Homo sapiens: one gene and its partners. The protein of the gene in region 1 purifies or fractionates together with the protein of each later gene. This does not show direct contact. Each region holds a gene or a part of one and is shown on either strand. Other genes may lie near its edges.

Evidence for each region.
Region 2: the proteins of WNK3 (region 1) and CLINT1 purify together in Homo sapiens (affinity purification with mass spectrometry; one large-scale study listed by BioGRID and IntAct). This does not show direct contact.
Region 3: the proteins of WNK3 (region 1) and GAK purify together in Homo sapiens (affinity purification with mass spectrometry; one large-scale study listed by BioGRID and IntAct). This does not show direct contact.
Region 4: the proteins of WNK3 (region 1) and CPVL purify together in Homo sapiens (affinity purification with mass spectrometry; one large-scale study listed by BioGRID and IntAct). This does not show direct contact.
Region 5: the proteins of WNK3 (region 1) and AP2A2 purify together in Homo sapiens (affinity purification with mass spectrometry; one large-scale study listed by BioGRID and IntAct). This does not show direct contact.
Region 6: the proteins of WNK3 (region 1) and STK39 purify together in Homo sapiens (affinity purification with mass spectrometry; one large-scale study listed by BioGRID and IntAct). This does not show direct contact.
Region 7: the proteins of WNK3 (region 1) and CLTCL1 purify together in Homo sapiens (affinity purification with mass spectrometry; one large-scale study listed by BioGRID and IntAct). This does not show direct contact.

Annotation. Positions count from the first base shown.
Region 1 is NC_000023.11:54,194,047-54,197,546, reverse strand, and holds part of WNK3 (serine/threonine-protein kinase WNK3), read left to right. Parts: 3' UTR 1-3,500.
Region 2 is NC_000005.10:157,810,646-157,814,145, reverse strand, and holds part of CLINT1 (clathrin interactor 1), read left to right. Parts: intron 1-918; coding exon 919-1,083; intron 1,084-3,500. UniProt on the Homo sapiens protein: Binds to membranes enriched in phosphatidylinositol 4,5-bisphosphate (PtdIns(4,5)P2). May have a role in transport via clathrin-coated vesicles from the trans-Golgi network to endosomes. Stimulates clathrin assembly.
Region 3 is NC_000004.12:848,777-852,316, forward strand, and holds the end of GAK (cyclin-G-associated kinase), read right to left. Parts: intron 3,199-3,540; coding exon 2,974-3,198; coding exon of another isoform or gene 2,771-2,973; exon of another isoform or gene 2,533-2,770; intron 2,309-2,532; coding exon 2,160-2,308; intron 1,293-2,159; coding exon 1,116-1,292; intron 999-1,115; coding exon 897-998; 3' UTR 501-896; downstream 1-500. UniProt on the Homo sapiens protein: Associates with cyclin G and CDK5. Seems to act as an auxilin homolog that is involved in the uncoating of clathrin-coated vesicles by Hsc70 in non-neuronal cells. Expression oscillates slightly during the cell cycle, peaking at G1.
Region 4 is NC_000007.14:29,136,538-29,140,037, forward strand, and holds part of CPVL (probable serine carboxypeptidase CPVL isoform b precursor), read right to left. Parts: intron 1-3,500. UniProt on the Homo sapiens protein: May be involved in the digestion of phagocytosed particles in the lysosome, participation in an inflammatory protease cascade, and trimming of peptides for antigen presentation.
Region 5 is NC_000011.10:1,005,870-1,009,304, forward strand, and holds part of AP2A2 (AP-2 complex subunit alpha-2), read left to right. Parts: intron 1-658; coding exon 659-748; intron 749-2,142; coding exon 2,143-2,266; intron 2,267-3,230; coding exon 3,231-3,347; intron 3,348-3,435. UniProt on the Homo sapiens protein: Component of the adaptor protein complex 2 (AP-2). Adaptor protein complexes function in protein transport via transport vesicles in different membrane traffic pathways.
Region 6 is NC_000002.12:168,164,096-168,167,595, reverse strand, and holds part of STK39 (STE20/SPS1-related proline-alanine-rich protein kinase), read left to right. Parts: intron 1-188; coding exon 189-297; intron 298-3,500. UniProt on the Homo sapiens protein: Effector serine/threonine-protein kinase component of the WNK-SPAK/OSR1 kinase cascade, which is involved in various processes, such as ion transport, response to hypertonic stress and blood pressure.
Region 7 is NC_000022.11:19,232,720-19,236,219, forward strand, and holds part of CLTCL1 (clathrin heavy chain 2), read right to left. Parts: intron 3,151-3,500; coding exon 2,977-3,150; intron 1,988-2,976; coding exon 1,790-1,987; intron 904-1,789; coding exon 703-903; intron 600-702; coding exon 447-599; intron 1-446. UniProt on the Homo sapiens protein: Clathrin is the major protein of the polyhedral coat of coated pits and vesicles. Two different adapter protein complexes link the clathrin lattice either to the plasma membrane or to the trans-Golgi network.

The DNA of each region.
Region 1 (3,500 bases):
TCACTATGTTGGCCAGACTGGTCTCAAACTCCTAACCTTGTGATCCGCCCTCCTTAGCCCCCCCAAAAAATTACAATAATTTTGTCAACCAATACAGAACATGAGCCCTTTTTAAATGTGATTTCCCGTCATCACAGCAGTAGGATGAAGCCTTGTTTTGGGTGAGACAGAGGGAAAGGGAAAAAACAGAATTGTAACAGTTCCTTGATTCTGCAGATACTGCTGCTGTTTTACGATTTCAGTAATAATTCAAAGCAGCTGTCTCCTTGTTTCTCACATGCATACTACATTGGTTTTGAGCATCTGAGAGGCATTGGTTTGTCTTGCATTCTTTTGCAAGGCATATATTGCAGCTGATATGAATCTCGTTTGGGGGGAATCCTTGTATTCCTAACAAGGGGGATTAAAGCTACACCTCAATCCATTCTTCTGAAGTGAAATTTACTTGACACAGTAGGTTTCGAGACTTACATATGAAACACTGGCTTTACAGGGTTCTCAGAGATGTGGGGTATACACTGTCCTGCAGTGAGATAGTAGACCCTAGAAGGATACTATTTAAGTTGTCCTTAGCTCTTTTTAATTACAATTTTTAGTTGTTAGAATTTCTTTTTAGTATCTATAGTATCTTAGATGATTTTAGATCTTAAATGAGTTTGGCAGCCTCTTTAGAATCTGAGAGAGATCACTGTCAAGTTGCACTTTACTGGGTTTTATCCAGTTTTAGGAGGAGGGGAGGCAATGTCAAAATGTACACCTTTGGTTTTTAAGAAGGTTAACTATAATAATGTTAAAGGCTAGTCACAGGGTTACCTAATGCTCAGTCTGTGAAACCTAAATAGAATTCTTAAAATGTTATTTACCAACTAAGTATTCATGTTCAAATTACTTACCTTCCACTCTGAAGACTTTAAGGTCATTTCTAATACACATTTACCTAATTAGGAGTTCTGTCTACTAGTAAACATTCCAAATTGCTACCCAACATTACTGTTAACAGATTTTCCTCCGTATTCTTCTAAAAATTATACCCCATGGGCTTGCCAGGTAATGACGAAAACTTAATGGGTGTACTTTTTTTTTTTTTTGCACAGTCTACTTTGTGACATTAAGTACCTCTTTTCCAAAAAAAAAAAAAAATGTGTTTTATGTTGCTTACCTGAGGATCACATCCATTATCAAGAAGATTCTGTCGCTATAATTTGAGGCATCTAGGGCAGCATTTTGAGAATTGCTGTTGATAAGATCCACTGTTTCTTTTCATAGAACATGATCTGTTTTGTATGAGTCTTTCCAAATGTTAAGTACAGATTCTTCAAATTTCTTGTACAGTATTGGTTTGCAGTTTAAAGTGATTTTAGGACATTAGTGTAATGCAAATGCTTGCATTGCACTGTTTTCCATATGTATAAAAACAATGCTCCTAAAATCCCTAATTCTTTAAAACTGCCTGTGTTTCATTATAAAAAGTTGGCTTTGTGTAATTACACCGAGCCATACAACCTATAAAGTGAAAATACTGCAGATTTTAGGACCCCTTCTTCTCTAGTCACAATCATTTTAAACAGTGTACCCCAGGATGAAAAAAGCTCCATGGCTGACATGTACAATTACATGTATTAATGACTGCTCTACATCCTATGTTCTGCCTTTGGCCACCACCTCTATTCCACATATAATTCATCATTCTTGTTTGCCTGCAGACTCTTGCAGTGCCTTGTAATATTTACAATCTTTTCAGGTTTTTGCTGGAAAGAAAAGTAGTCTTCTAAAGTTTGAAGATGGTGAATAGTGTACTGCTGTCTCCATGCTGACTGCAGTAACCGGGTTATCATATATGTTATGTATACATTATGTATATATAACATGTGTACATTTAAAAATACAGAAAAAAGTGAGCTTGTGCAGAAATGGAGAAAACAATGTTATTCTCATCACTGTGGGGTTTTATTAAAATTATTTTTTCCCATGACTTACATGTTTGGTTCAGATTATAGTCACTTTGACTGTAAATACTGGCTAGTTTTCTATCCAGGGCTTTTGCATTATTTCATAATTTTGCTAAATCATATAATAGTGCTATTTTCATCCTTGTCTGAGGTACTTTTCCTCCCCAGAAATAATTAACTTGAGGTAAAGCTCAGAAATTCCCTTCTTAACAAAGAGCCTACTATATAAAAAGGGCCTTCCTTTCCAAAAAACACACAAACCTGTCCTTTTCATTTTCCTTCTTGTAGAGGAGAAAATGGTTGTACTTAACCATCCTGCTTGTAAAGTTTATTCAGAGGATAGTCTGTATGTCCAGCCACCATGTTTACTTCTCAAAGTGCAAGTCTGATGAATAGTACTGTATCTCCATATGTGGTAATGTGAGCATTTCATCATGAAGTACCTGCTGCTATGTCTGTGAAGTTGGGTGTAACATCATAAGAATATGAAACCAGTATTGGTGTAAATCTAATGAAAATAACCCTATGTATATTTGTAGCAGTCTTGAATCTCTATTTAAGGTAATTTGCTGTAATATAACAAATATTCATTCTGTTTTTCATCCCTTCCTTGCCAGTTTTATATCAAGCATGAATTCCAATGGTTTGACAGCAAAATTATCTGTGAAAGTTTAAAAGGCACTTTTCTGCTGTGATTTTTGGATTGAGTGTGGAGTGTTATGTACAGTTTGATGGGATATATCATTTTAGAACCCCAGATTTAATTCTAGTCCAATTAATTTTGTTTAACTACCTCGTTTTCAGTGCTGTTTTGGGTGCACAAGTAAACACTACCTGTGAAACTTGCTTTTTTGCCTTGATTCTCAGTATTCTTTCAGATTATAAATCTGGTCTGCCTCTTTTTTCCCAGTGCTAGCCAACAGTTTGAGATGAGAGGGATCATCACTCTCATCTGTGTTTAAGTGGAGAGCCATGTGCTTCTGTGAAATATGCTTTGGGGATTTGGGGGTGGAGAGCAGAAGAATAATTGAAATTGGTGGCAATATAGGATTTAGGTGTAGGAGTTAGTTATAAAATAAACAAATGGTAAGAAAGTACCTGAATTAGACAATCCAGTGCCTATAACTTTGCATTTTTTATTAGAGATGCATTTCTCGTCTGTGTGCCTAAAGGGCAATGGGTTGAAATTGCTTTAACTACCACAGCGAAATATTTGACAAATCCTTCAGCAATGGCCTATCATTCAACATATATTAGCACAGTGCTAGGTATTTGCAGTGGTATTTTGTTACCTTAAAACGGCCAAATGCATTTAGTTGAAATGTAGTTGATAGTAAGGGTTTTATATAACTTTATCCAATCTCTAAAGTTTATGGAAGCATTGACTTTCTTCTTTGCTGTCTTTTCTGAGTGATGAAAATGATGCATTCCTTTTTTTTCCTTGAAAACTCAGCAAATGTTTGTAACCAGATGTTCCTTGTTTCACATGTTTACTGTGTAACACTACAGCATATTTAATATTGGTAAATACTGTATTTCAGTCATTATGCA
Region 2 (3,500 bases), on another chromosome or scaffold:
AGTTGGAGTTGTCAGTCACCTGAACCAGCTTAGAAGCTTCTCTGCTCTAATTAGAATGTGACTGTTGCTGGTTGTGTGACGAGTGCAGAATCCAAGACGTGGGGCCCTAGAGTATTAATTAGTGAAGACAAGAACTTGCAGAAAAGACTGGCTAATAACAACAGAACCAACACAACATGAGTGTTCGGGTTTATATTAAAATATGCACTGGAGACTGGTCCCCTGTGGTGTCCATAAAGGAATAGCTTTAATCATATGGGAAGAAAAGGTTAGAGCTCCAAAACACACACATCTGTTTGAAGCTGGGGTTTTTTTCCCTCCCACCAAATAATATTTACTGTGCAAAGGCAGCAAGGCCACAGTGTGTTTTGAATGTGAAAGAGGCTAGAAAATGAAGCACATTTCATTTTGTAGCGTACCCCACTTGTAAGCACTTTAAAAATTCAGTTTTTGAGCTATGCTAAAACCTCATAATTAGTGTTCCAGACGTGTACTGGGGAAACCAAGACATTTGTGTGCTTTTCAGTTATTAACATGCTAAAGTGGTTCTTCTTTTGATTTGTTTTCTTAAAATATGATAGAAAAACACAATAGCACTTATGGATATGTCTATTTTGTGTGGTCATCATCAGTAATCCTTTTTAGGTCAATCTTTAATTGACCTTGCATAGTACCATTATCTGTGGTCCTTTTTAGTTCATCTTTACATGCTCTTATAAGCCAAAATTCCATTTTAGAACTTAGAATTTGCTGAAGAGGAAATGACAAAGTTAAATAGCACAACTTGCCCCTTTCTATTGTTTTTTAAATATTGAAGTTTCTTATGTTGAAGTTTTTGTGTCTTTTTTTTAATCTTAAAGAGCTTGATACATATTAAGTGAATTCTTAGGTTTTGCTTATCTCTTACCATCCTCATAGATGAGCATGGTAAGGATCAAGGTATAAATATTCGACAGAAGGTGAAGGAATTGGTTGAATTTGCCCAGGATGACGACAGGCTTCGTGAAGAGCGAAAGAAAGCAAAGAAGAACAAAGACAAGTATGTTGGGGTTTCCTCAGACAGTGTTGGAGGATTCAGATACAGTGAGTATCAAAGACAAGCTGACACCTAAGCATCAGCTTAGCTTCTTGAGTATATTTTAAGAATCAGTGAAATACCAAAGACCAAAATGCTAATTTTCTTTTCTAGGAATACATAGAATACTAAAATACACGCAGTACTAATCTTGACTTCTACTATCACATGAATCTTCCTATTTTTAACTTGTGGGTTCGGCAATAGGATTTTAACCATTAATGGCTAATTAAATGACTGCATATTTTGAGGTGTCATACAGAGATTAAAACAGATATATGCCCTTCCCTCTTAGGATTGCCATTTTAAAAAGAAGGGGGAAGAAAGTTTCTATAACTCAGAGTTTAGAGTATAAAAATAAAAAGTTTGATCAGGAGATCCATCTTTCTAATTTGAAACCAATTTAGCTGTATTTTTGGCCCAAACCAGATAAGCTTCCTGACAGTCATTCCAGCCTCAGTCTCTCTTTCTTTATTTAAGCATTGCATACTTTGACATATAAAAGATGACTGACGATACTCGCAGTTTTTCATCTAGGCCTATTGTTTTGTTTATTCTTCCCAGTACACTTAAGAGCAGCTAGAACATTCATCTTTCATGTTTATTTTTAATATAATAATATAGTTTCTCTAAAATAGGGCATAGGTGCTTGAAGCAGATACACAAAATAGGAACTGTCTTTCACGGCATGTCCCTTTGGACTTGTTCTGTCTTCTGTGAGCTCTGACAATCTCTTGCTCATTTTGTGTATGTGCAGACTGGCCAGTGCTGTGTATCTTAGCAGCTGTTCACTGAGGCTCTCCAGCTCCCCCCACCCATATATGTTTATATTTGGATTATATTGAGCTCTCATATCTCCTTCAATGGAACCATGTAAAAATCTTAACATATAAAATATCCTTACTCATTTATTCCTCTGCTTTCCCACTCTCAAAGAAAAAACACTGCGTTTAGTTAGCTGTTTAAGGATGTTTCTAACAGCAGAAAAATTCCCTTTTTTATATTGAAGCATCAAATACAAGTTAGTTTTTTCTTTTTCTTTTTTTTAAATAGGGCTAACTCATAGGCAGTGCAACCAGAGTCGGCCACAAGTTAGTTTTTGAATTGGGCAAAAATATTTCTCCTAAAGCATATAAATAATGTTTTGAAGTTTCTATTTGGGGAAGTCCAAAGTTTTTGGATTATTTACCCAAGTAGTAACTTTATTCTTCAGGTTTTTCAAAGTAGTTGTAGCAACTTAATGTGTTTTTAATAGAAATTGCTATTTGAAACTTATTTCCACACTATTCTTGCTTGTATCTTTCTTTTTGCCAGCATGATATATAATTATATCAGCTAAACTTAGAAAATTGAATACGTTTTCAAACTCAGTCACAATGCACTAACTGCAGCATCTGTATTAAAGATAGAGTTGGATATCCTGTGTGTTTGCATCACATCCTTTTGCTAAGTTATTGTTCATGGTTTATGTTATTCAGACTTAACTAATCACTCTTAGCAGTTTTGTGTTTTTTCTTTTTCTTTTCTTTTTTTTTTTTTTTGAGGATTCTTGCTCTGTCATCCAGGCTGGAGTGCAGTGTTACCATCTCAGCTCACTGCAACCTCCGCCTCCCGGGTTCAAGTGATTCTCCTGCCTCATCCTCCCAAGAAGCTGGGACCACAGGCGTGAGCCACCATGCCTCGCCAATTTTTGTATTTTTAGGGTTTCGCCATGTTGGCCAGGCTGGTCTTGAACTCCTGACCTCAAGTGATCCAGCCACCTTGGCCTCCCAAAGTGCTGGGATTACAGGCATGAGCCACCGCACCCGGCCAGTTTTGTGTTTTTTCATTCTGACATTAGATAATGTCTTGCCAATATCCAGTATCTTTAGCAGTAATTCAGTATGATGTTCACCATGCCATGCTAATCAGTTTGGTTTTCATCCACTTCCATTTTTCGTGTAAATTTGTTTCTTTCCGAAGTCTGGTTCATCACACTGTTGTTGAAATGTACATACACATTGTTGGAAAATCACTTTTTTTAAAAAAACCATCCTGGTTTAAATTTTGTCTAGAAAACTTCATTTTGTCATGTTTTCTTTAAGTTGATGGTCATTTCCAGATTCAGTAAATATGTTAAAATCCTTAAACATGTAACAGAAAATTTTAGCCTTGCAATTTTAGGAGGCAATTCAGCAAAATCGTTTTGTTCAATCTCCAAAGGCTATGTATCCTTTTAGATCCTGTAAACAAAAGTTCAAAACAAAAGCTCCATTAGCCACTTTTTAGTTATTTTGTTGTTTCTCATTGTCCTTTTCATTTTCTTCCAACCTGCCTTAATTTTTAATGTTTTCTTTTTTAAAAATACCTCACGTGCTCTCTGTACCTTCTACTGTTGCTTCTTAAGTTGGATTTGGACATGGAAATGGAAGGGTTTCATTTTGTG
Region 3 (3,540 bases), on another chromosome or scaffold:
GTCATTATTCTCTGAAAACAGGAAGAGCCTGGCGGTGAGTTCAGGGCTATGATTCAGGGCCTCCTCGAGTCTGCTGTGGGGTGGGGGCTCACCATGGTCACCTTCTCCTTCCAGGGGCCCCTGGTCCTCCACCAGCCCGACAGCCCGGAGGCCACCTTGGCCCTGCGGGGATGGCACAGGGGCAGTGTGGAGCCCACCCTTGCTCCTAGGTCCAGGGCCCAGGGGCAGGGGCCAAGTGGAGAGGAGAGAGGAGTCCCGGGGCCGAGGGGAGGAAGGGGGTCTGGGGACTGCAGGGGCCCCCGCCCTTGGCCTTGCCCTGGCTGGGCTCTATGGCCCCCTGAAGAGCTGCCCAGAGCCGCTGCAGCCCCGGGACCCGCTTCTCCTCTCCACTCGGCCCCTGCAACAATCCAACCACGGCAAGGTTGCTGAGGAAGCACAGCCTTGTGCCCCAGCTGGTGAACGGCACCTGGGCGAGTGGATCCACACTGGAGACACAGCAGTCATCGGAAAATAGTTTAATTCTGTACAGACAACCACGGGACTGATTACAAAGTGCGGTGCAAACACCAGGGCCCATGAGCGCCAGCAGCGTGGCCCACCACGTGCCGGGGCTCCAGAGGCCACGCCCGAAACACCAAATAAATCACAGACGTGACAATTGCGGGAGGAGCATGAATCAGCTGTTCCTTCGGGAGGAGAAAAAGGAAACAACAATCAGAGGCTTTGGAATGCTTTCTCTTCATGTGCCTGGAACGCTGGGCGGGCGGTGACCCGGGGCTCGGAGCCCCACCCTGGCCACACCTGCTGTCGCCCACGGGGTCCTCACGGTGGGGACCCAGGTCCCACGACGGCTCCCAACCTGTGGAGCTGTGTGCGCAGCCACCACCACTGCGGCCTCAGAAGAGGGGCCGGGAGCCCTGGTTCTCAAACTCCGACCAGGCGTCATTCAGCTCCATGAAGATCATCTTGGCGTGCTGCTCGTACGGCTGCCCCGCAGCCTATGGGTGACAGGCGGTGTAAGCGCCTCTTATAAGCATGCGGGGGCGGGCGGGGCAGGACCCCCCCCCCGCCCCGCCCCTGAAGGCCTCAAGCGGCCGCCTGGCAGCTCTGCTCACCTTGTCGGGGTGCACAGCCAGCACCGCGCGGCGATAGTGCTTCTTCACTTGCTCCGGAGCCACCAGGTCGGCCATGCCCACGGGCGTCCAGCGGCTCTCCCCGTCCCACAGCACTGTGTGCAGCGTGGACAGCAGGGCCCGGATGTTCCGCTCCTTGCCCTCAATCCAGTCCAGGAGCTGCGGGAGACACGGAGCTTGCCGAGCCCTGGGCACCTGCCTGCCCTCCTCCTCTGCACCGCGGAAACTGAGGCACGACGCTGAGGAAGTGCCTGGTCACGTGGGGTGGGCTCAGCCCGGCTCACAGACACTGTCCCACTGCACGCCCTGCCCTCAACTATATAGAGCCCACTCCGGACGACACAGGGCCAGGTGGTCTTCATGTTTCAGGGCCTGGGGCCAGAGGGACCCTCGTCTCAGCCAGATGTTCACCGAGGACACAAACCCTGGTTCTGGTGGTGCAACCCCTTGGCCCATCCCAGGCCCCAGACTCCGAGGGAGAAGGGGATGGTCCCTGGTGCCTGTGAAAGGACCCCAAGGTCACAGGCGCATGTGGCCTGCAGAGCTGGGCATCGGCCAAGCCACAGAGCAGGGCGTGTCTCAGGGCCGGCACAGTGACAGCCTGACCGCTGCATCCTCACCCCCCAGTGAGCGTCCTGGGTTGGGAGGCTCAGTACCCAGAGCAGCCCCCAAGAGACGCCTGCCCTCAACAGTCTCTGCAAACACCCCGGGGCACTCACTCCTGTAACGCCCGCCCACCCCACCCCCACCAGCGCTGAGCCATCTGGGCACGTGGGGAGCAGCACAGCCTGGGGCCTGACTCTGCCCTGCCCCCCTGGCCTCAGGCCACCCTGTCCTTGAGGGCTGCCAGGCCCATCGGCAGTGACAGGTCCCTGTCTGGAGACGCCGGCTCCATGTGGTACAGCAGATGCTCCAGGGGTGAAAGGTTGCTGTCTGGAGACGCCGGCTCCATAAGGCACAGCAGATGCTCCAGGGGCCATGGGTTGAGGCCTCTGGGCTCCCAGGAAGAGCTGCCCACCCACCCACCTTCAGCTTGAGTGGGTCCGTGTCTTTAGCCAGGTCCTGCTTCCTCATCTCTGCAATGGTCTTTGGCCCTTTCTTGTCAGACCTGGAGGAGAAGCCTTGATTGGACAACAGATCTTCAAAGTCGTTCTCAGAGACTTTTGGCTTTTGAGCTAGAAAAGAACAGAAACTTTTTTTTGTTTGAGACAGGGTCTCCACTCTGTCACCCAGGCCAGAGTGCAATGGCGTGATCTCAGCTCTCTGCAGCCTTTGCCTCCCGGCCTCAAGCGATCCTCTTGCCTCAGCCTCCCAAGTAGCTGGGACCACAGGCATGCGCCACCATGCCTGGCTAATTTTTACATTTTTTGTAGAGAGGAGGTATCACTGTTGCCCAAGCTGGTCTTGAACTCCTGGGCTCCAGCGATCTGTCCGCCTCAGCCTCCCAAAGTGCTGGGATTATAGGCGTGAGCCACAAAGCCCAGTTAAGAACAGAAACTTTCTGCAGAGACACACAGGCCCAATTCCACCTGCTGCCCCCGGGAACAGGGCTACCATCCTGATGCCTCCAGAGTAAAGAAGAGGGAAGACAAGACAGGGTTGCAAAGGCCATTTGTTAAAAACAGGTCAAGAAGGTGTCACTGGAACAAGAGGGACCCAGAGGCCTGACCCAGAGAGAGACCAGTGAACACACATCGGAAACCGCGTCGTTCTCTGAGTGGCTTGGCCGTGCCTGTCCCAGGACTGGGCTCTGAGATGAAGAAAACAACATAGGTTCTACCTTTAGCCAATTCAGGGAGGTCTCTGCAAACTCCACAGCAACAGAGAGTGGGGGACTCACCAAAGCTGGGTGCGCGGACCCCCCGCTCCTCCCGCGCCCCGATCACACTGAAGTTCGAGGCATAGTTAGGCCTTGGCTGTGTGCAGGCTTTGGGGGGCGGCTTGGCCTGAGGGGGCCATGAGGCGCCCTGGGCTGGCGGCCGACTTGTCTGCCAGGAGCTGCTGCCTTTGGGCGTGGTGGCCGTTTTGGGAATGAAGCCCCCAGGAGGGAATCCAGCTGGTGAGCCTGTGGAGATGGAGATCGGAAACTCGGCATCTGGTTGTCCATGAGGGGCAACTACTGTTTCTATAACGCAGAGCACCACGTATATTGGAAAACATGCGCTTGCAAAATAGAACACCGATCACTCGAGGCCGTCCAGAGGTGCCGGCTCCACCCACACGTGTGAAGGTCTCCAGGGGCTGGAGCACAGGCCAGGTGCTGGGGCGACGGGAACACTCTGGATGGAGGGCAGACACCAGGACAGGGCAGCTGTGGAGGCAGCACCCCACCCCCAGGAGCCAAGGCAGACCCAGGGCTTGTCCACGGGGGTTGGGGCAGTGTCCCCACGTCACCCCCAGGAGCCAA
Region 4 (3,500 bases), on another chromosome or scaffold:
AGGTGTAACCCTAAAACCAATAAATCAAGAAACAGATTAGGCAGATTACTTGGAAATTTGGAATTAAAGGCTAGAACAGACAGGTAAAAGTATGAGAGGAGGTCTCAGAGATAAGAGAAGGATGGGGAGGTGGGGAGAAGAAGACTAAAATTTTTTATCATGAGAATTATAACATTACTTTTATTATATTGACAAAAATCAAAAGTAGTTAAGAAGAACTCAAAAACTAAACTTATTATCTCCTTCCCTAAACTTGTCCTTACTTCCCTATTTTTCATCTTGGTTGGAAATACTCCCATCAACTCAAGTACTAAAGCCAGAAATCCAGGATGTATTCTTTATTTATCCATTTTTCTCTGGCCCTGCATTCCCACAGCCAATCAATCACCAACTGAATCTCCTAGATGTTCTTCAAATTCACCTTCACCTCTCTAAATCTACTCTCATGGCCTAATCCAGTTCTTTATTGTGACTTGCCTGGACTACTGCAAACCTCCAAACTAGTTTCCAACCTTGACTTTAACTCCTAATTAAATGAATCCCTCTATACTTCCCTCATGTGCTGCTGTCTCTCCTATTGAGGTGGCATCACTGTCTGGGGTAAATACCTGGGGTTCGCCATCTCATGCCAAGATTAAGGACATGGACACGCACAAGGAGTGAGTTTAGGAGCAGAGGTTTAGTAGGCAAAAGAAAGAGAAAGGAGAACACTTCTCTCTCTTGCAAGAGAGGGGCATCTGAATGGGAAATCTGGCCCTCCGTGGAGTGCACCAGATTTTATAGACAGGCTTGAGGAGGTGGTGTCTGATTTATATAGACAAAGATTGGCCCACAGATTGGCTGGACCAGGTGTGACATTTACATAGCATGCAGGGAAGCTGGCCACCTCACCCTAACCTTATTAAGCAAATGGGCTTTCCACTTGGCCAGCATTACTGTCTGTTCCCTACTGTACACATGGTTGGAAAGGAAAAGGGAAGACGGAGCTGCCATTTTGAACATGCCTAGCCCAGGTAGCCTTTTCCTATTGGCACAACTGCCGGCATTCACCTGTGCAAGCTTCCAGCTTACTTGTCTATGTGTGTAGCTCAATTTTATAGGCAGGCTGCTCTTTGTTAGAAAAGAAAATGATTTGGGGTCTGCTTTTCATTAAAAGGAAAACCTTACCGAGGACTCCTGTACTCTCACTATCTGCCCAAATAATTTCTTCTTAACGCCTATATCACTATTTTGGGAGGTCATAGAATTTATAGCATTTAAAAATTTGTTATGCAGCAATAGATAACCAATACAGAGGCAGGAGAAAAGCATAAGTAGGAAGTGGAGAAATAGGATGGAATCTAGAGAAGTCAGTAGAGAGCTGATCAGGGAGAGTTTTCTAGATATGCTAAGAATCTTTATCCTCTAGTGACTAGGAACTACTGAAGGGCTTGATAATTTGAAAAGAGTACTATGAACATCAATGTAAGGATGGACTTAAGCCAGAAAGACAGCAGGCAGGAAGGCCAGTTAATATGTTTCACAATAATCTAGAATAAAGATGACAGGAGTTTGAACTAGGGCTGGAAACTAGTAATAATAGCGTGGAGAGGGCAGACTTAAAAATAATTAGAAGGTTGACTGGGAGCAGTGGCTCACGCCTGTAATCCCAGCACTTTGGGAGGCCAAGGTGGGTAAGATCACCAGAGGTCAGGAGTTCCAGACCAGCCTGGCCAACATGACAAAACCCTGTCTCTACAAAAAAATACAAAAATTAGCCAGGCTTGGTGGTATGTGCCTGTAATCCCAGCTATTCAGGAGGCTGAGGTGGGAGGATCACTTGAACACCGGAGGCAGAGGTTGCAGTGATCCAAGACCACGCTGCTGCACTCCAGCCTGGGCAAAAGAGCGAGACTACGTCTCCAAATAATAATAATAAGAAGAAGAAGAAGAAAGTAAAACTGGAAGAAACTTGTGATTATATATTAGAGTTGAAATAGAACAAAGAATCTAGGATGATCCCAGATGTGACTTAGATGGCTGGGTGGGTGGACAGTGGTGCCATTAACCGAGAAAGAGAGAGACCCAGATCCCTGGGAGTGAAAATCAGCTCTGCTGCTAATCAGTCTAAGATGCTCCCAACAGAACATTAACAATGTTTCTATATACCCAAGGCCACTCTGCAGCTGCAGTATGATGGACAGTCCTTTTTTCTGAGCAACTGCTGTATTCTTACCAATGATAGCGCTTTGTCCCTCCCATCTCCTGAACAGAGACTGCTGAGAGTCTAAGTTCCTGAGCTGCCACGGGCACTTGGCAGCAGCTAATCCAGCGGGTACCTCTTCCCTGATCCCTCCTTCGACTCATTCAGCACAAGGCCAAATATTTCAGAGGCCTCTTCCCACTTCTCCCAACCTTTGGGTATGTGTCCTCCTTTGCTGGACATAATGCTAACACACCTAACTTTGTGTCATTACACATGTATTTCTCATATTCTCTGCTGAGTGGGTTTCAACTTCCATCCCACTTGAAAGGTGTGCTGAGAAAAGGTAGAAGGAGACTAAAAAATAGGGAGAAAAGAGACAATAAAGCCAGACCGTAGAGGATGGCTGCGGGCTCCCTATAGTACATTACATTCTAAGACGAGCAGGAAAGGCTCTGCCACAATTCCTGAATGTACAAGGTCAAAAGTTCCAGCCTTCACTTTGCCAACAGGTATATCCTTGGGCAAGCCAATTCACTTCTCCCCTTGGACTTCAGTTCCTTCATTTGTAAATTCTGGAGATTAGATGGACTATATAATTCCCAAAATCCCTTTCAGCTTGGAATGTCTAAGATTCTAAAAATGCAGCCAAGGAGATCAGGCTAAAACTGCTTCAGGCTTTGAGTCACAGGGATGATTCACGCAGGCTACCTTAATGAAAGAACTTCCACATCTGCTCTAGGTGCCCTGAACCTACACATTTCTGTCAGTGTTCGTAAGACAACCTAAGAAACCTAAGAAAGGCTATTCTTGGGGGGGCAGGGGGGCTACAACACTGATTAAATTACATGTTTTTTAAGCACAGATTTTTTAAAAATCCTATTAAAATTCTAAATCAGTGGCTTCCAGCAATTTTTCTCTGAAACAGACGTCTCGGATTTTGCAGACACCAATGTTCAGGCACACGTGTACACAAGAATGGTGGAAAGAGTCATGGTTTTACATGGAGTGTGCAGTCTGCCAGCTCAGAAATCTCCTGTGTCCCAACGGCACAGGCGGTTCATTCTCCTGCCAGCCAAGTTAATTCTACCAACATGCCAATAGTTAGAAGGGGAGAAAACAAAACAAAACAAATTATTTCCACTTGACTTGCTGATTGCTAATAATATTCTTCATCAAGTAACCCAGGCAGGAACACTTTTCATCTTCAGAATTAGCTATGGCTGCCATTTCCCCTTTTGTCAAATACAGGGAGATATTTCCCACGGTCTGCACATGACTCAGAATGGCTTCATCTTTATTTCACGTTCTACATTTC
Region 5 (3,435 bases), on another chromosome or scaffold:
GTTTACTGTTTTCAAAATATTTGAGATTTCCTTTCTGAATTCAAGGGGTATACAGATGTTCACAAAGATTTTTTACTGTGATATAAATAAAAACAGCGACACATCCTAAATGTGCACCTGTGCCGTGGCTGAGCCGCTGCAGTGAGGGCTAGTGTGCAACACCGATGCTGTGCTGGACGCGTGCCCAGCCGGGTCCCCTGACAGGAGGCAGCCGGGGCCGGTGCGTGTGTTTGCATGTTGCAGTCATGGGGCGGGGCCGGCAGAGGCCTGTGTGATTGTGGCGTCCCTGGAAAAGATGCTTGGCAGGCCCCTCCAGCTGTAGCCCAGCCTGCAGACGGGGCGTTCTGTGGGTCCTTCCCCGTGCATATGCGTGTGATCTCACCCATCCCGTGTGGGTGCGCAGGAGGGGCCGAGGGAGGAGGGTGCTGGAGGGCGGAAGTTACCTCTGACTGGAGGAGATACCCGGCCCGTGTTACCAGCACTGGTGTGCTCGTTCTAAAACTGGAAAAAATTTGTTCTTAATTTTAACAACAGTCATACATCACAACAGTGAACTTAAATTCAGCTGAAGATTGTGGGGGGCTCTTGTTTTTCAGGGTAAATATTCAGGGTAAGTGTGAAATGGTGTGTGTGAAAAAATTGTTTTTGTTCCTTCTAGGTCGGATGTTTATCTTTTATGGTAATAAGACCTCCACGCAGTTCCTAAACTTTACCCCAACACTAATCTGTTCAGACGACCTTCAGCCTAATATCCTTGGCTTCATTGCCCCATGCCCGCAGACAGCATAATGTGGGGCTTAGAGGAGGCTTTTGAGGAAGTTTTTTGGTTTTCTTATTTTGTTAAAATAGCGAGATAATTCCAGATGCTATATGAAAATCAGGCAGTCGTAATCTGCCTATGGTGCTGGGCAGGAGAAGGAAAACAGGCAGTCTTCCATATTGGAGAGCCAGCTTTTGATCATGCACCTAAAAATACCGTGTACATGCCTCCTCCCCTTCCATCTGGCCAGTGTGAGTCCCTTTCCTTTTCACCTGCTCTTACTCTCCTGTGACGTGATCTTTAAACCCCTCCTCTCCGAAGCCTCACAGAGCTGCTGCTTGCAGAGTGTGGGAGGCGCCAGTGGGGACTGGAGCGCGGTGCGCACCCCAGCCGAGCTTGTGTGTGCTTCTGGCAGAGCTTTTAGACTGAAGATTTTCCCTTCGTAATGCCAGAAGCGTTCCTAGAACTTCCCCAGCTAAAACAGGGAGACGCTAACGTCTCTACCTCTAAGGATAGGCCCGCCAAATAGAGTTAGCGTGAAGACCCCAGCTTGACCAGAGATGGTGACACCTGGGGATTTATGGTCAGCGACCTGAGTGAAGCAACATCCTCCTTGCCACTGGCTGGTCTGTTCATTTTAACATGAACATGTTTTAATGCAGACTGTTCAAGCTGTTTCAAAACAGTCATTAAAAATACACATGCAGGAGCACCTGTATTAAAGACTTTGTTTGGAATCTGGAGTGGAAGCTCTGACTCCTACTGCGCCCTTCTTTAGGGGTCTCTCCCTCGGGGTCCACTTGGCTCGAGGCGGCAGCGAGCCCAGCAGCTGAGTGGCCGGCGGCACACGACCCAGAGGGAAGGAGAGGCCTGCACCCCGCTGCCTCCTGGACCCAGCTTTGCTGCTGTCACTGTTTCTTCAGGAGAGGCTGTAGGCAAACCCTTGTTTTCCAGCATGAAAACAACCCTGGTCCCAGCAGGGCAGGCTCTTTTCTGTGTCTCGCTGTTTCAGGAGCCTGCTATTCCTGGGATTCTTAAAGTTTTCCTGCCCTACTAAGCACCAGTTTCTGCTAACGGTGACAAAAATTGTGTGTGTAAGACCCAGAGCCGAGGCTCAGAGTGAAAACAGACAAGTAGTATATAATCTAAGTGACTTTTTAAAATGGAGGAGCCATTCTGGAAGCGTGAGAAGCAGACAGTGTTTTGAGGATTGTCTGGGTGGAAGGGCAGGGCCGGGTGGTGTGGCTGCCCTCGACCCGTAGCTGGTGGTCCTAGAGTGTGGTGAGTGTGCTCGCCTCCACGGGTCCTGCTGGGGCTCTAGCCCGGCCCGTTTCCGCTTCTGCCACTGGGACTTGCTCAGCTGGATTCCTTAACGCACGCACACCTGAACCTGCAGACCAAGCCCGTGGACCCGACCGTGGAGGGGGGCGCGCAGGTGCAGCAGGTGGTCAACATAGAGTGCGTGTCCGACTTCACGGAGGCGCCAGTCCTCAACATTCAGTTCAGGTAAGAGCCGCCTGTGCGCCCCGGGCCAAGGGGTGTGTGGGCGCCTGAGCTGTGTGCCTGGGCTCCATGACTGTGCCTCCGTGTCCTTCCTGAGGGGACCCGGGGCGTGCGGGTGCTCACGGTGCATGGATGCGGCCTGAGCTATTGCTGCCCCCGGCTCTGCAGAGCGCAGGAAACAAGGGGAGGCGGAGCCCTGGGCTCCGGGACGGCAGGTGGCAGCTCCCACATGGGGCCTTGCTAGGATCTTTCTGGGCACCATGGGGCCCACCTCATGGGGTGGCAGACAGCCAGGGCCCCCGCGCCACCTGCCCGGCTTGGTACCAGACGACAGCTGTGGGGTGCAGGCAGCTGGTTTCCTTCGGCCCCCTGGCCTGGGGGGCGCGTTTTTTGCTCAGTTGAGCTCAGATCGTACCACTTTGCTTATTTTTTAAAAGCATAGGATTTTCCTGTTGCGACTGTTCATTACTCTCACTTTTCAGTGACTACAAATAGCGTGGATACAGTCAGCCCGTCCCCTGCTGGGTGTCTGCAAGGTTAGGAATGTTGAGAAAAGCACACTTTCTAACATTAAAAAGACAGAGAACTTAAGATTGTATACTGTAGAATTCGGGGACATAGACATGCAAGTTTTTGTTTCATTCTTTGTGCAAATGCCTTTGCCTTTTTAAAGAAAAAACATCACACTATTTGCACAGACTTGGAGTTCTGGGAAACAGATGAATGGGGAGAAGTGAGGCACAGGGACGTCCTGCCTGAGTATGCGGCCCTGGCCTGTCCTCCTGTCTGTGGGTGACACTGGACACTGAGCCACACACGATCCGTGGGGACTGAAGGCTCGGCCCCCCGACCCGCTCTGGTGGGTGGCAGTAGATCGGGACGCTTCTCACTCCAGGCTCTTTCCCGGTCCCTGGGGCTCTCAGAGGAGTAGCTGACTGTCTCTTTCTGCTGCTGCTGCTGCTGGCAGGTATGGGGGCACCTTCCAGAACGTGTCTGTGCAGCTGCCCATCACTCTCAACAAATTCTTCCAGCCGACAGAAATGGCTTCTCAGGATTTCTTTCAACGTTGGAAGCAGTTGAGCAAGTGAGAAACCTGTTTCCTGTAGGGGTCAGGGGTGGGGACGGGGCTCATTTGAAAAGGTGGGTTTTGGTCTCTGGCCTGGCTGAGAACA
Region 6 (3,500 bases), on another chromosome or scaffold:
TAATCTGAGTTGATAATGTGGGTGAGAGAATTGGTCCTTATATACCTTCTTTGAAGTAATGGCTTAGGCAGCCCCTCAGGTAGGCTTTCGAGTAGGAAAGTTACCCAGGTACTCAACTGTGATTCACTTGTGTTTTGCTTGCCAATTTTCACCCCATGGTACTATGTCATGTTTTGCTCTTTTTATAGAAAGAAATTCAAGCCATGAGTCAGTGCAGCCATCCCAACGTAGTGACCTATTACACCTCTTTTGTGGTCAAAGATGAACTTTGGCTGGTCATGAAATTACTAAGTGGAGGTAAGTGGATTTTGTTGTTGTTATTTATTTGCTTGTTTTCTCTCCTTTTGTTGGAACCAGCATATTGGAGAAGACTTTAGATTGAATCCTTTCTCTCCTGTGTTTGAAAGTTTGTTTGGTTTCTCATTGCCTAGAGGATAACGTCCAGATTGCTTCACATTGACCTTCAAAGCTTTTCATAATTTTGCTTAACTTCCGAGAATGTGTATGTCCTCTTCTCCAGGTATGAAATGCCCGACCTTCTAGGCTGAGAGGCAGCCCCCGGAATGTATTATGTGCTCTCATGCCTTTGCCCCTGACCTGTCCTCTTTCTCAGCCTTGCATCTCTCCTTTGTTTTCCATGTGCTCAGGCCTAAAAGGTCACATCCTCTCCACAGTCACCGCTTACTCTTCAAAAAAGTTAGCCAGTCCTTTCTCCTTGAGTCCTTTCTTTTTAACATTGTTCAGGTCCTTAACACATTGCAGTTTGCTGAATTATCTCAGTGCCATTTATCAGAATGTTCTGTGATGATGGAAATGTTCTGAGGTGCTGCTATCTACTTTTTACTAATCCCATGTGACTCTTAAGCACTTGACATGTGGCTAGTGTGACTGAGGGACTGAGTATTCAATTTTAATTAACTTACATTTAAATCACCTTGTATGGCTCCAGTATTGGACAGTGCATATTTAGGTTGTGGACTTTGTGAAGATTGTCTAATGCACTTTGAATTCATTGAACTTGGCGCCCAGTAGGTGCTCACTAAATGTGGTTTCAGTTGACATGGGGAGAAATGTGTGCTACATATTCACTTGCAGTGTTGATCAGAAATGGCACTATTGTCATCCTATTGTTGCATTTGGGAAGGGAAAGTCACTTCCTCTCTCTAGCTTCAGATCCCTGCAGTGATGCAAGCCATTGACAATTTAATTTACAAGGTGCTTTCACATCCTGTATTTTATTTCTTTTAATCTTCTAACATCACTATCAGAGAGGGAATGATAATGATAACCGTTGCCTTTTTTGAACACTTACTCTGTGGCTAGATCCTGTCCAAGGCAATTTACTGACCTTATCCCATTTAATCTTCACAGTGTCCCTGAATGGCCTGTGTCACCATCCCTGTTTTTCAGAAATTACACCAAATTTCAAGGGAGTTTAGCAACTTGCCCAAGGTCACACACATAGTAAATGTTGGTGCTGGAATTTGTGACTTTAACATCTGTTGACTTAAAAATTTGTATGCTGTGCTGCAAGTATTTACACCTTCGTTTTGCAGACATGGGCACTGAAGCTTAGAAAGCCCAAGTGATTTCCTTGGGAACACCCAGCATACCCACATCTCTGGTGTGTTCTCTTTCGAGGGCTTGATTCTCTGGGTATCTTTCTGAGACATGAAGTATGGTTTAGGATCAGAGGAGAACATTTTGCTGTGCCTGGACAACCCAAAACTAGCATAGCAGAATTTATATGATAGAGCCTATTTTAATCTGCAGATGTCGAGGGAGGTGTTTTAATGTTTTCCTTTTTTAAAAAGGAAACTCTCTTGGATCAAGCAGAAGCCCAAAAATGAGATGACGAAGGCATTGTAATTGGCTTGGGTCTGCTTGTGTAGGTCTCGGTGGGGAGCCCTGGGGAGCTTAGTTCTGTTCTGTTTTCAGTCTTCCTCAGTCTTATTAGTCATTGTTTCCTTGAGTGCCTACTTCAGTTTTTAATTAAAAAGAAAAAAAGAAAAAGGAAAAGAAAAAGGAAGCCTGCCAGAGCTGGACTGCAGTATTGAGTGCTGGGACTGCCCCTTTATTCAGCAGAGGAACTTGCGCTTTGCCAACAAGATGATCTTAAGGCATTCTCTTTTTGTGGGGTTCCACCAACTCTGAGGAAATGAGAAATTCTGATGACTTGAGACCCTGAATAGTCCCAAATGCTCTGCTCAAGCTGAAGATTTTACCTTTTGCTTTATGAAGCTGAGAATCTTCTGTTTTCTGAGGAGGATCTGACAGAAAATTTCTTTGTCTTTTTGAGTCCAATTTAGCCTCTCTGGGCTTTAGGTAAGAACAGATTTTAAACAGGTTTCCACAGGTAAGGACGTGGGCAGACGTGGACTCTTGTTCATTTTTCTTTTAGCAGGACAGAAATGCATGCATGCCTGGTATGGTATATCCTTATACAATAAAAAGAAAATGTTTTTGGAATTATCATTTTTTAAATGACACAAAAATCTAAGAGTCAACAAATAAACAGAGGTTTTTTTTTCCTCTGGGGAAAAATATGCATTTGTTTTCTTCTATTTCATTACATTGAATCTCTTAATGAGGGGCAGGCAGCTGTATCTGATGGGGAAGCTCAATCCTCTTAGTTAATTATAAAGAGCCTAGAGCCAAATTCAGGTCCTGAGGTAAGCCGTTTGTTAACTCTTCAGAAATGTCAAACCCCCAGGTAATTTTGGCTTTTAAACTGACCCAGGGGTTTGGAATACTAATTAATATGTGTTGAAACATGAATTCACAGTGCCAAGGATACTAATCTGTATATGGTAACAAAGTACTAGGTATCTGTTTGTTTATTGTAAGTGTTAGTGCCTCAAATATATCAGGTAAATGAAATAAAGATCAGCCAGGCTCAGTGGCTTATGCCTATAAGCCCAGCACTTTGGGAGGCCAAAGGTGGGCAGATCACTTAAGCCCAGAAGTTCAAGACCGGCATGGGCAACGTGGTAAGACCCCATCTCTACAAAAAATACAAAAATTAGCCAGGCGTGGTGGCACGTACTTGTAGTCCCAGCTACTTGGGAGGCTGAGGTGGGAGGATCGCTTGAGCCTGGGAAGTTGAGGCTGCAGTGAGCTGTGATTGCTCCACTGCACTCCAGCTTATATGACAGAGGCAGACTCTGTCTCAAATAAAAAAAGAAAAAGAAGGAAAGAAAATAAAGATCAGGTAGTGTCACAGGAAGGAATCTTCCGGTTATAAGCAGAGGTCTAGAAACAACATACTTCTTTCCCCCTCCCACCTGTGATTTAGGTCCTCAAAGAGTGTGTTTTTTTTCTCTCAGCAGTTCACTTCTGCCTTTTCTCCTGGCCTCATACTCCTTTCTTTGTCAGTTCAGACTTTTTGCACCCTCTTTGGAGGGTTGCTCTTAGGAATTTTTGTGAGAAATACTGTAACCAGAAAAGGAACCAGCCATGGAACGGCCATGAACAGCCTTCTGGTCCCTGACCCAGAATCC
Region 7 (3,500 bases), on another chromosome or scaffold:
GTGTAGGTACCACCTTCTGCCAAACACAATATCCAATTAAATGAATTGATTTAATGTACATGGAAGGCACAATTAACTATACAAAGAGCCCAGACCACAAAGAAGTTTCCTGATCTGTGTGCAAACACAGCCTGCCAGTAAGCACACAGGGATAAGATCTGGGAGTCTGCCAAAATATCAAATTAACATACAGAAGGAAGAGAGGGAGAGAAAAAACAAGATAAAGCTCCCAAATAAAACGAAGATGGAAGGACTGGAAAACTAAGGATAATAAAAAGCTGAAGAGAATAAAATATGATCATTATGAATAAAGATCCTAACAGCAACATTGCCAACTCTCACACCAGAGGACTTACAAAGAAGGGTATTTTATAAACTTTAAAATCAGCAACCACTCAACCACACGTGAGTAATCTGTGAGATGCCAGTGGTTCAACACACGTTACCTTTTTGGCATAGAGCACAATTTTCTGGAATTGGCCTGTTTCTGCAAAACACTGGATCACTTTGCTTGGCACATTTGCCCGAAGGTACACACTCAGAGCGAGCATGGGGTCAGTGGTTTTGACCAAGTCTCCGAGCTCCTCTGAGCACTCCAGCTGTGGTATGCCAAGGGACAAGGCAAAGTTAGGAGGCAGGTAGGGAGCCTGGACCAAGTTTTCAAGCTGTGCGGGGGGGCTACGAGCTCACAAGTGTTTCTACCTTATCTTCTTTCAGCCACTTCTCTAGGAGTTGCTTACGCCCCTGCTGAAGAACCAGATGGCAAAGTTCTAAGGATTCAAGTTTATTGAGCTGACCCTGGTCGAGCAGGATTCCGAAGTACTGCAGCAATGGAGAAGCCTGGCCAGACTGAGCGGGTATACTCTGGAATTTCTGGACCGTCTCTCTGGTACGCAGGATTCCCTAATAATAAATGGAAAAATAGGTCATTGTGTTGTAATCACAGGGGATCCCTTCACTCAACTTCCTTGTATGTAAAAACAAAAATCTGCCAGTGGAAATTCCACACTGCTCTGTCATAGACAAAAAGTCCTCTACCAAGGCAACTGCTTCTATCTTCAACAATAACCATAAGTATAGGGGAATCTAGGTCCTCCAGGTGGCTTCACACTTAGGGTCTTACTTCTCCCCCAGCATGCTGCAGTAAGAATTCGGCCTCTCAATCAGTCTTGTAGTAGTGAAGTTCTGCTATCATTATATTCTAATTCAAAATACTCAAATTCACAGATGAAGGCTAGAAATGGTTTGTTCACAACTACCCCTTGAAAGACAAGAAAAATTCTTTCAAGGACAAGCAACTTGAAAGTCTTTATCTACTCAGGAACAGATCCAGTCTCTGAACAATTTATCCAAATGAAATAAACCCAAGAAAAAGCCATATGCCGAAATGCTATATTCTAAAAGAGTGGAGAAAGTCCAGGGTAGGACTATCGCTAGATAAAACAGGGAACAACCACTTGATGTATTGTACAGTTGCATATTTGACAACCAGGTAGCAAGAGTGGAAAATGCTAAGTTACAGAAATGTGAAACTGTATCTAAGCTGTTGGGTGAGAGGTACGTATGCACACAAAGTGGGAGGCGTGAAGAAGTGCCGATGCAGCAAGAGTGTGTTTTTTGTTTACTTCCTTTACTGTTATGCCATTGGTGCAAAAATTTTAAACTAAAAACTCCTAACATAACACTAATAGACTGCAATATCACTAGTGAAATGCTTTTATGACTTATTTTCCTCTCAAGGTTGGTTCTTAACACTCAGAACACTTGAACAGTATTCAAGGTTTATCACCTTTGGTGCAGACGCTGCAACTTTGGCGGCTTCAGCATAGCTGCCCTGTGCAAAGAGGGTATTGAATTTTCTCACAAACAACTTCTCTGCCCCAGCCAGGTTACTACGAACGGCCAAACGCAGACCAAGGTCTGGATTCTGAAGCACGTTGGTTGCATAATTCACAATGTTATCTTCCTCAACACAAACTGACAGTACCTGTAAGGACACAACAAGTGAGAGCAGCCCGGCCTAGAAGAGTGCTCCACCATCCCTCTGCCATGTTCCCTTCCGATGCTGGAGTGGTAGCCACATTCTCAGGCGAGTGTTGAGCACACCTGTGATGGTGGCCCTCACAGTGAAAGGAGGCAAAGCAGCCGAAAGCCAAATGGTAACAAAACAGAACAGCATAGGAGTCTATGTAGTTATTAAAGTCACACAGATAAGTGTGATGCGTTCTGCGCTACAGCAAAATGACCTATGTGGATGGAACTGACAATTTTTCTTCTTAAACTTTTTATTTTTAAAGTACAGAGTTTCTTTCTTTTTTAAAAAATATTTTTGTAGAGACAGGGTCTTACTATGTCGCTCAGGCTGGATTCAAACTCCTAGCCTCAAGCAATCCTCCTGTCTCAGCCTTCCAAAGTGCTGGGATTATAGGAATCAGCCACTGTTCCCGACTTTTTTTTTTTTTTCCCCTGAGACAGGCTCTCACTGTTTCACCCAGGCTGGAGTGCAATGGTGTGATCACAGCTCACTGCAGCCTCAAACTCCTGGGCTCAAGCCATCCTCCTGCCTCAACCTCCCATGCAGTTGGGATTACAGGCATAAACTATTGTGCCCAGCCAAGAGTTTCTTCTTTTAACTATCTTTTTCAACTATGGTTGAGAAAAGTTACTTAAATACCATAGTATCTGCTTTTTCAACCCTCCCCAGTTAGGGTGTGCATGGTATAAAGATGATGTGCATCAGAACTGCTGTTCTATACGCAGGAAGGAGCTGCTCTCCTCCTGGAATCAATCCTGTGTTAGGAATGGTGCTGTCTGAAGAGAGGAAGTGTCAATATGAAGGAGGAGACATGGGTTTAAGTTTAATAACAGGAACTATTAATAGCTACACCCAGCTGCTTTCCTAGAGAAGGGGGAAAGTTTAAACGCCAGTCCCTAATGAATGGAAAAGGTAGAAAATGAAATGTCAGAGTTACACACCTGTCCCTTTTTGTTGACACCAATAATTCCAGAGGTTGGTTTGTGTGGAGCAGTGACAAATATTGTGTCAGCACTAATACGGTTCATGCAGATGCACACGCCAGACTCTAGGTCGTACAGATGAAGATAGCCATACTTTGTGATCAAGTAAATAACACCATGTTTAGCTCCAATCTATAAGAAGACAGAGAGCAAGAGGTTGGAAAGTAAGGAGGAGAAGCCATGCGGGTAAAAAGAGCTCACAAATGATAAAGAGGATTCTTGTTTGTTTGTTTGTTTTTTGAGATAGGGTCGTGCTCTGTCACCCAGGCTGGAGTGTAGTGGTGCCACCATAGCTCACTGCAACTTCCGACCTCTGGGCTCAGGTGATCCTCCCATCTCAGCCTCCAATGTAGCTGGGACTACAAGTGTGAGCTGCCACACCTAGCTATACAAGGATTCTTCAGTTTCTCAGGCCGAGAGATTACTGGTGGGAGCAATGCTTTCCTGAGACATGGATTCTAAGTTGTACTTGATTGAGAATT